Linked DNA regions of Homo sapiens: region 1 is linked to region 2. The links come from fine-mapping of genetic effects on gene expression. A gene starts in region 2. The other region holds a variant in brackets. All regions are shown on one strand. Distances are from middle to middle.

The links. PIP is the estimated chance that this variant, and not a neighbour inherited with it, causes the effect. A credible set is the group of variants that fine-mapping cannot tell apart.
Region 1: its variant is the best candidate, but not a certain one, in a credible set for the expression of CCNB3 in testis (GTEx, PIP 0.82).

What each region holds. Positions count from the first base shown.
Region 1 is chrX:50,158,304-50,163,688 of GRCh38, reverse strand. No RefSeq gene overlaps it. Among named protein-coding and RNA genes, the nearest start is that of AKAP4, 40 kb to the left of the region's middle. The variant T/C (reference allele first, on the strand shown) is at 2,849.
Region 2 is chrX:50,202,229-50,207,613 of GRCh38, reverse strand. CCNB3 (cyclin B3) reads right to left here and starts at 2,849. Exons shown (of 13, transcript NM_033031.3): 1 at 2,664-2,849.

The sequences.
Region 1 (5,385 bases), 44 kb after region 2:
GCTGCGTGCGGCGCTTGCTGGCCAGCTGGAGTTCCGGGTGGGCGTGGGCTTGGCGGGCCCGGCCCTCAGAGCAGCCGGCCAGCCTGCTGGCCCCGGGCAATGAGGGACTTAGCACCCGGGCCAGCGGCTGCGGAGGGTGTACTGGGTCCCCCAGCAGTGCCGGCCCACCGGCGCTGTGCTCGATTTCTCGCCGGGCCTTAGCTGCCTTCCCGCGCGGCAGGGCTTGGGACCTGCAGCCCGCCATGGCTGAGCCTCCCACCCACTCCGTGGGTTCCTGTGCAGCCCGAGCCTCCCCGACGAGCACTGCCCCCTGCTCCACTGCGCCCAGTCCCATTGACCACCCAAGGGCTGAGGAGTGTGCGCACGGCACCGGGACTGGCAGGCAGCTCCACCTGCAGCCCCGGTGCAGGATCCACTGGGTGAAGCCAGCTGGGCTCCTGAGTCTGGTGGGGCCTTGGAGGACCTTTATGTCTAGCTCAGGGATTGTAAATACACCAATTGGCACTCTGTATCTAGCTCAAGGTTTGTAAACACACCAATCAGCACCCTGTGTTTAGCTCAAGGTTTGTGAGTGCACCAATTGACACTCTGTATCTAGCTGCTCTGGTGGGGCCTTGGAGAACCTTTATGTCTAGCTCAGGGATGGTAAACACACCAATCAACACCCTGTGTTTAGCTCAAGGTTTGTGAATACACCAATCGGCACTCTGTATCTAGCTCAAGGTTTGTAAACACACCAATCAGCACCCTGTGTTTAGCTCAAGGTTTGTGAGTGCACCAATCGACACTCTGTATCTAGCTGCTCTGGTGGGGCCTTGGAGAACCTTTATGTCTAGCTCAGGGATTGTAAATACACCAATCGGCACTCTGTATCTAGCTCAAGGTTTGTAAACATACCAATCAACACCCTGTGTTTAGCTCAAGGTTTGTGAATGCACCAATCGACACTCTGTATCTAGCTGCTCTGGTGGGGCCTTGGAGAACCTGTGTGTCCAAACTCTGTATCTAACTAATCTGATGGGGACGTGGAGAACCTTTGTATCTAGCTCAGGGATTGTAAACGCACCAATCAGCGCCCTGTCAAAACAGGCCACTCAGCTCTACCAATCAGCAGGATGTGGGTGGGGCCAGATAAGAGAATAAAAGCAGGCTGCCGGAGCCAGCAGTGGCAACCCGCTGAGGTCCCCTTCCACACTGTAGAGGCTTTGTTCTTTTGCTCTTTGCAGTAAATCTTGCTGCTGCTCACTCTTTGGGTCCACACTGCTTTTATGAGCTGTAACACTCACCGCGAAAGTCTGCAGCTTCACTCCTGAAGCCAGCAAGACCACGAGCCCACCGGGAAGAACGAACAACTCCAGACGCGCTGCCTTAAGAGCTGTAACACTCACCGCGAAGGTCTGCAGCTTCACTCCTGAGCCAGCGAGACCACAAACCCACCAGAAGGAAGAAACTCCGAACGCATCCGAACATCAGAAGGAACAAACTCTAGACGTGCCACCTTAAGAGCTGTAACACTCACCGCGAGGGTCCGCGGCTTCATTCTTGAAGTCAGTGAGACCAAGAACCCACCAATTCCGGACACAAGAGGACGGTGTTCAGTGAGCTTCCAGAGGGCTGAACACATGGAGGTTCCTGGAGGGTGGCATGTCTAGGGAGGGGAGGGAAGCTCCACACCCTTTCCTCCATAGCTCACCCTGTACTCTCTTCATCTGTATCCTTTGCAATATCTTTTATAATAAACCGGTAAATGTGTTTCCCTAAGTTTTATGAGCCACTCCAGCAAATTAATCAAATGAAAGAGGGGATCATGGGAACCCCAACTTGAAGCCGGTAGGTAGGCCAGAAGTTCTGGAGGCCCAGACTTGCAACTGGTGTGGGGAGGGCAGTCTTGGGGACTGATCCCCCAACCTGTAGGATCTGACACTATCTTTTTGGAGAATCAGAGGATACCCAGCTGGTGTCCACTGTTGGTGTGTGGGGAAACCTCCCTCTACATTTGGTCACAGAAGTTTTCTGTGTTGATGATTTTGGTGGTGGTGAGAGTAGAGGAAGAACACAGTTTGTGGAGAGTTTTTCCTTACGTAACTCCCAATAAATAGATGTTACCACAAGCTAAACTTCTCTTTCAAAGGGAAAATGGTCCCAAGGGGCAGAAGTAATTTGAACTTTTTGATTGCTATAGGAATCCAGTTGGATTCCAAATAAGTTACAGTTTTATTAGAGAAATTGATGAAGTCTTATTTCATGTTGTTGCCTTTTCCTGGTAACTTTTTTTGTTGTTGTTCTGAAGCAGTCTTACGATGTCTGCATGAATGAGTCATTTTTTGCCATGTGGTTTTTTGTTGAGATCTACTCATAACATGGAACAGCTCAGCTGTAATGAGTCCATTCTTTCCGAGGCTCCATATGACCTCTTCAATGGTCTTCAAACAGTTTTAGAGGAACAGCTGATAAATTTCTGTTTTATTGTCATCCTTTTCTCCATTTTTATTCTCAATGTATTTCCAAATTACAGAAGGACATTCTTCTCATACCGCACTTTGAAATTATGGTTTTATGGCAGGCTGACATTTTAACATTTTTTTTCCTATGGCTGGCAACAATGATAGATATTGTAGGCACCTGTTAAGGAGGCTATCTCCTCCCATTTCTATAAAGTAAAAAAAAACTCACTACATACTTCTGCATATTTTGAAGAAATTAAAAAGTCATCAAAAACTTTCATTATAAAACCTTTAATTTTATAGATAAGCAGAATGTATCTGTCTTTAGCAGGATTGTGTACAAGGTGTGCATGACATTTAGCAGGTAAGGTCTTTTCATTTATTTCAATAAAAAGTTTATAGAC[T/C]GAATGGAATTCCACACAATTGACATTTATGCTGTCTGCTAAACATACAGATAAATGAGAAAAGTCTCGTTTGTATTTTTTCATATTTTCTGTGGTTTTATTAATATCTTCATTGAAATCAAGAAGATAATATGAAACTTCATTTTTTTTTTTGAGATAGGGTCTCACCCTGTCACCCAGGCTGGGGGTGCAGTGGAGCATTCTCGGCTTACTGCAGCTTCTACCTTCCAGGCTCAATTGATCCTTCCCCTTTCACCTCTGTAGCTGGGACTACAGGCATGCGCCACCACGCCTGGTTAATTTTTCTATTTTTTGTTGAGACAGTGTCTCACTATGTTGGGTAGGCTGATCTCGAACTCGAACTCTCGGTCTCGAACTCCTGGGCTCAAGCAATTTTCCCACCTGTTATCTGCATTCTTACAAAACATGGTGTTATGGTTGAATTGTGTCCCCCAAAAAGTCATATGCTGAAACCTTAGCCCCAAGTATCTCAGAATGTGACAGTATTCGGAAATAGGGCCTTTAAAGAGGTGATTACGTTAAAATGTGGCTATTAGGGTGGGCCCTAATTTAATCTGTCCAGTGTCCTTATACAAAGAGGAAATTTCCACACACAGAGACACCAGGGATTCACAAGCACAAAGGAAAGACCTGTGAGGACACAGAAGGAAGGTTGCCATCTGCAAGCCAAGGAGAGAAGCCTCAGAAAAAACCAAACCTGCTGGCACCTTGGTCTTGGATTGTCAGCTTCCAGAACTGTGAGAAAATACATTTCTGTTGTTTAAGCCACCTAGTCTGTGGTATTCTGTTATGGTAGCCCTAGCAAACTAATGCACATGGTCACAATATTCATGATGTGAAAGGTTAAACAACCTTGATACAAATTACAACAGTTGATCCACAGGCAAATACAAAGGCGAGCTTGTTAATGCTCACAATTTCAATGCACTTAAGTTGCATGCTAAAGTGGCATCAGTCACCGTGATGCAACAATGGATGATCATTATTGTGAGCTGCAAATCATGGTTGTCAATATCAGCAGTTGGGGCAAAAAAAATGGCCACAGCAACTACAGAAGGCAGAGAATCTATGCCATATCCATTTCACATTACAAACTGCTGTTTTCACTCCCTATTTGGGCGGGGGGGGCGGGTCACCATATGGGTTTTGTGCTTTTCCCCCAATCTTCTGTACCCATCACAGAAAATTGAGACTTTTCACATCCCAGGGAGGAGTTTCCTTGGGATTTGAGCCTTTCTGTGCTAAAAGTGGAACAGTCCAAGGCAAACCAAGACACCTGGCCGTCTGCAGTGGTGCTCCTGGGATGCTGCAGACAATGTTCTATTTCTTGCCTGGGTGATGGTTACATAGTGTTTACTTTATAACAACTTTTAGTTGTACATTTATACTTTATGCAATTTTGTGTATGTGTATTGTTTTTCAGAATATGGATACTTTTTAAACATTTTTTAAAAATCTTTTGTAGACATGGGGTCTCACCATGTTGCCCAGGCTCAAGTAACTCCTGGGCTCAAGTGAGCCTCCTGCCTCAGTCTCCCAAAGGGCTGGAATTACGGACATGAGCCACCACACCTGGCCAGAATACATATACTTTAGAAAAAGTTATGCCCACCTCTTCCTACCCCATATGTAATTCAGAATAAAATGATATTGCACCATAAAATAGATGGAACAAAATTTAACCAACTTCTTATTTTCTCTTGTTTTATATATAATGTAAAGTTGATTTACATTTTTGTTTTACCCCAGCTTTGCTAATGCCCTAGGCATCTGACTATTTAGGCAACCCAGTACTGCCCTAGGTAAATGACACATTGAGTTACCAGATGCAACATTGGCAGTCCTTCTGGTGCCAGGCCCATGTGTCCTCTTCTTTTTTATGACTCTTCCAGGTAGAGTTAGTGGTTCCTTGCCACTGAACTGTGACCTAGTGCTGAACACAATGAATTGGAATTAGATGTTTATTGTGTGTCTCCCAACATCAGACAACTTTTTGTGAGAAAAATTGTACCTTGTTCCTTTCTGCACCATCAGCACTTTGTGGTTGGGACTTGGTAAACATTTGTTGAATGAATGATGGGCTTTTATTGGGGCTATCTATCAAAGTCAGCACTCCCTCACGACTTCCTTCTTACAACTGCATTTTAAGCCTGGTTATGTTGGCTAAATCCTGAGAAAATAAATTTCTGTTGTTTAAGCCACCTAGTCTGTGGTATTCTGTTAGGGTAGCCCAACAGAATGGGTCCAACTGACACCATTTGTTTTCTGAGCAGACCTGTTATCCTAGAATGTAGAGCTGGTACAAAATTCATTTCTTTAGGATGTATTTATTGACTGTCCACTGCATGCCCTGACCTACCCCTGGAGTACAAAGAGGCAAAAATCTAAATTGAAAGCATAATCAAATGCTGAATTTCTGGCAGGGAAAATTGGTCTAGGCGAGTTATTTACTAAACTGTCTGCATTTGATTGTTCCTGATAATTGTTGTTTGGCATCATCTTTTCTAGTTAAACAT
Region 2 (5,385 bases):
TCAGGATGACCCAATGTTTTTGGCCTTGACCAAGCACTTCTATGTGGTCCTGGGGCTAGCAATTCTTGAAGAACCATTACCACTTATTTTCAATTATGTAAATATCATTAGGCATTTGCTAATATATATGAACCTGTGCTACCCTTAGCAGGGTAAGTGAAAATGGGCAAAACACAGTCATTCTCTTCAAGAAGTCCTGTTTTTGGAAAGATAAAGCTCATAATGAAACAAATACACCACAAGGCAGAATGTGATATGTGAATTTATAAATTCACTAGGTGAATGTAAAACTGTTGAGAATTTCAGAAGACACAAATGATTGAGTCCACTCTTATAATCAACACCATCACTATTGTCATAATCATCTCAACATCACCAAGAGTTACTGAGTGTCTAAGCACATGAGCCACTGCTAGGTTGTACACAGAGACAGTTACTGCCTTCCTTGAACCTATACATATCTTCATAATGGAAATATTAAGGAAATGTATCAATAAATACGACATACACAAAAATGCAGTTTTTAGGATGGGGAGTGATTCTGTCAAGAGAAATCACCAATTTCCCTTTTAATTGGAGGAACACCTTCTCAAGACGGCTTTTTTACGGGGTGTTCTCCTACTGCATGGGAATACGTTTTCCAACAGCTGCGACCTCCTAGTGACCACATGAAGTCATTACCCCGATTCATCATCCTGACTTGAGAGCAAGAGGCACAGGAGGCTGGAGTGCAGTTGGCGAGATCACTCCTCATTACAGCATCAACCTCCCATGCTCAAGCGATCCTCCCACCTCAGCCTCCGGAGTAACTGGGACTACAGGCACGCGCCACCACACCCAGCTAATTTTTTTTTTCTTTTGGTAGAAATGGAGGTTTTGCTCTGTTGCCCAGGCTGGTCTCAAACTCAGACTCTTGCCTTCAAGCAATACTCCCACCTCAGCCTCTCAAAGTGCTGGAATTACAAGAGTGAGCCACCGTGCCCAGCTGTCATAAAGTAATACTATATTTCATTTTTATTATTTTTTCTTTTGAGACAGTCTTGCTCTGTCGTCCTGGCTGGAGTGCAGTGGCATGATCTCGGCTCACTGCAACCTCCCACTCCCAGGCTCAAGTGATCCTCCCACCTCAGCCTCCCGAGTAACTGGGACTACAGGCGGGCACCACAACACACTGCTAATTTTATTTTATTTCATTTATTTTTTGGTAGAGACGGAAGTTTTGCTATGTTGCCCAGGCTGGTCTCAAAGTCCTGCCCTCAAGCTTTCTTCCCGCCTCAGCCTCCGAAGGTGCTGGTATTACAGGAGTGAGCCGCAGCGCCCAGCTGTTACCAAGTAATAGTATATTTTATTTATTTATTTATTTATTTATTTTGAGATGGAATCTCGCTCTGTCGCCAGGCTGGAGTGCAGTGGCGCCATCCCGGCTCACTGCAACCTCTGTCTCCCGGGCTCAAGTGATTTTCCTGCCTCAGCCTCCCAAGTAGCTATAGACGCATGCCACCATGTCCCGCTAGTTTTTGCATTTTTAGTAGAGACGGGGTTTCACCTTGTTGGCCAGGATGGTCTCGATCTTTTGATCTCGTGATCCGCCTGCCTCAGCCTCCCAAAGTGCTGGCACTACAGGCGTGAGCTACCGTGCCCAGCTATTTAATTTTTTTTTCTTTTGAGACAAGAGTCTCACTCTGTCGTTCAGGCTGGAGTGCAGTGGCACGATCTCGTCTCACTACAACCTCTGCCTCCTGGACTCAAGTGATTCTCCTGCCTTAGCCTCCCAAGTAGCTACAGACGCATGCCACCATGCCCAGCTAATTTTTGTATTGTTAATAGAGACGGGGTTTCACCATGTTGGCCAGGATGGTCTCGATCTCTTGACCTCGTGATCCGCCTGCCTCAGCCTCCCAAAGTGCTGGGATTACAGGCGTGAGCCACTGCGCCTGGCTATTTAATTCTTTTTCTTTTGAGACAAGAGTCTTACTCTGTCGCCCAGGCTGGAGTGCAGTGGCGCCATCTTGGCTCACTGCAACCTTTGCCTCCCAGTTCAAGCCATCCTCCTGCCGCAGCCACTGCACCCAGCTGTAATGTTTAATACATTCATTCACTGATACACTATCTGCAGGGCAGGATAAACATTTTGTCACCAAGTAACTGTATATTTAAGTTTTTTTTTTCTTTTGAGACAGAGTCTTGCTCTGTCACCCAGGATGGAGTGCAGTGGCACCATCTTGGCTCACTGCAACTCTGCCTCCCAGTTTCAAGCGATTCTTCCGCCTCAGCCTCCCGAGTAGCTGGGACTACAGGCGCGCGCTACCACGCCCGGCTAATTTTTGTCTTTTTAGTAGAGACGGGGTTTCGCCATGGTGGTCAAGCTGGTCTCGAATTCCTGAGCTCAGGTGATCTGCCCGCCCCGGCCTCCCAAAGTGCTGGGATTACAGGCGTGAGCCACCACGGTCAGCCTGAAGTACTTTTTAAAGGTTATTTTTTCAGATGTTCCAGAAAAGTTTGTTGGTTTGACAGGGAGGAAATAAACTAATTAAAGGCTAGTTCCCTCAGCCAGTTTTCCTCCCACATCTCCAGCCTGACACAGGATATACTTCTATATTTATAATATATAATCAATATATAAGGCAAAAAGCTCTCGTCACGACTGACAATACATGTTGTACCTTTAACAAGCCACAAATGGACTGGAAGAAAAGCTATTAGCAGAATGTTCTCCACCTATCGGAAACTGAAAGAAAACAATACAAAAATAAACCAATCAAAATGTAGATGAGGAACAGAGAGAGAGAGAGAGAGAGGCGACCAACCGCCTCAGCCCAACTGTCTCAGAATGACGGAAATGCTTCCACAGAAATGCACCTCAGAACAACTGGTACGAGAGGCGGCCGGATTGACCCCACCATTCTCACCAGCAGGGGGAGATCACGAATCAGCGCTTTTTTTTTTTTTTTTTTTAGTCAGACTTAAAACCACCAGATGGGGCCAGAAGATCAGAGTAAATACCTTTCTACTTTTCTTTTTCTCAGGGAATTTCTCTTCTATCTCCAGACCCTGAAAGAAATAAAAGGCATGCTAATCACCACACACACACACGCGCGCGCCCCGCCACCCCCACCCCCAAGACGATGGAAGTGGCCAGTGCTGCCAAGCACCCCCACCAGTCACGTGGCCTCTGCGCTCCAGCGAGTCATTTATAATTAAAGTGGTAGGCATTTCATAAGGCTGTGCGTGAATTGAGATAATGCATGTAATACACAGTACCAGGCAAATTCTCAGTCCCCACTCCAGACCCGTAGAATGAGAAACTGAAGCCCTCCAGGTGATTCTGATGCACGCCAAAGTGTGACAATTACTGCTCTGGGAAAGAAGCCTGCCCACTCAGATAGCTAACCAAGTTTTTTGGTCATTTTTACAGATCCCATGACGCTGTGATTTCTGAATTATGTTTTCTGCCCTAAAAATTCCAAAACCTTGTGTCTTGAGCCCACCTGTGTGCCCAGTATTGTGGTGGATGCAATGAAAAAGAGATAGATAACCTTCTAGGCTTGCAATGTAGGTAATCTAGGAATAGGAAAAGGTAATTAACTCTACAAGGCCAGATTTAGTAAATGTCAGATGAATTATCCTGACAATAAGCAAATGTTCTAGGAAATCAGGGGAAGGAAATTTCATAATTATAAAAGGGAAGAGCCTGACCAGAAATAGCCACTGCCAAGCCAAGCCCACCCCTCAAAATTAGCCATAAGTCATTTTCTACCGCAAGGTTATGGAACAGAACTTTAGCTGCCTAATTAAGCCCCTGCCTATAAAAGAACCCCTAACATTCCTAAGACTCCACTTATCTTTAGCAGTTGCCCCCTGAAATTTTTTTATGATAATGTTTATAGACTTTAAAAGTCCTTTATTTTCCCCCTCCACTCCTCCAATCACTCATAGGAAAGAAAAAATATGTACAATGCAGACAAAACACAAACACTTGACAGAAGTAATTATACAGTTCCACTGCCAAGATGTTCAAAATGACTAATTTTTCACTTTAGTATGGTTGCATGAAGCTGCTCTAAATGTCATTGTGTACTCTCATGGCAGGAAAACCAAATCAGGAGAAAAAGAAGTGGTGTTCCCAATTATATTGGTCCACAGTAAATGATGTCTGATAATCATTGGCATCACTGCCCATTTTCTAAATGGTCATTGTGTCATCACATAAAAGGTAGGCTAAATCTGAGGCTGGAAGACACCCAGCAAGACTACCAGACAGACAGTGATTTCATGAAGGCTGATGGTTCACTTCATTTAATTTCCTTTTGCCATTATTCATGATAATTATATTATAAACGCAGGTCCCATTTTTATTATCTTCATAGTTTTTTCTAGCCAAATGCAAACCGAGAGTGTATTTAAAGTATTGATTTGCACTCTTATTCACAAGTTTGTGTGAAAGAGAAGAAGTTTGGGTAGAATAAACAAGGTTACAAAATAGATGATGGTGCTTAGAAAAAAAATGATGACCAAGGCTTTTGTGTTTAATATCTCAATATTTGGCTATTAAAGGCAAACCTAAGTGCAGACTATTCACACACCTTCACACACTAATACAATATATTCCTTACTTTGACTATTTGAATATCCCTTATCCCTCACCTGCCCTCCACCCCCTCTACTCAGTACAGACCAATTTGAGAGCCTCGAGAAGAGAAGGAAGAGGCAGTAAATGTACCGTGACCTATGACTGAGCCAGGTCTGCCTTGATTCTTCCCTTACATTTTGCTCATTGGTTTCACATCCAAATGCTGCCCTTACCTGCTCCTGGTTAGCCTCCAGGATGACAGGATTCAGGTGCCCTGGGAGAGTGCTCTAATCATCCATAGTAGTTCTCTCTTTGTCATCTGGGGATTACTAAGACATTTTCCAGGCATGAATCATGGTTGTTCCTTTCCGGGCTGGGAGACACAGAGTTTTTGTTTTTGTTTTTGTTTTGTTTTATTTTTAATCTCTTAGAGATATGATTTCTTGTGCTTGGAGAATAGGTAAACATTTTCTTCCTTTGCTTCATATTCCACAGAGATGAGCCAGACACAGGAGCTCCAACTTTGTCTTTAATCATCAAAAGTTGCCCCTTGACAAAAGGATGGTATAGGAAAAGCAACAAAGACCCTCTTCATGATCAAACTTTAGTCAGGCTTCTCTAAGCCCACTTCTCAGCTAGGCCTCAACTTTGGCCTATAAGAACTGCAACTTTCGGCACAATTTCATCCACCTGCCCCCCAATACATACACACACTAAGAGACTTGAACAAACACCAGCGTAGTTTCTATCAGCTCAAGGCCATTTCCCTAGGATGACAATCTCAGCCCTTTTAAAATGCCTTCCTGAGACAGTTC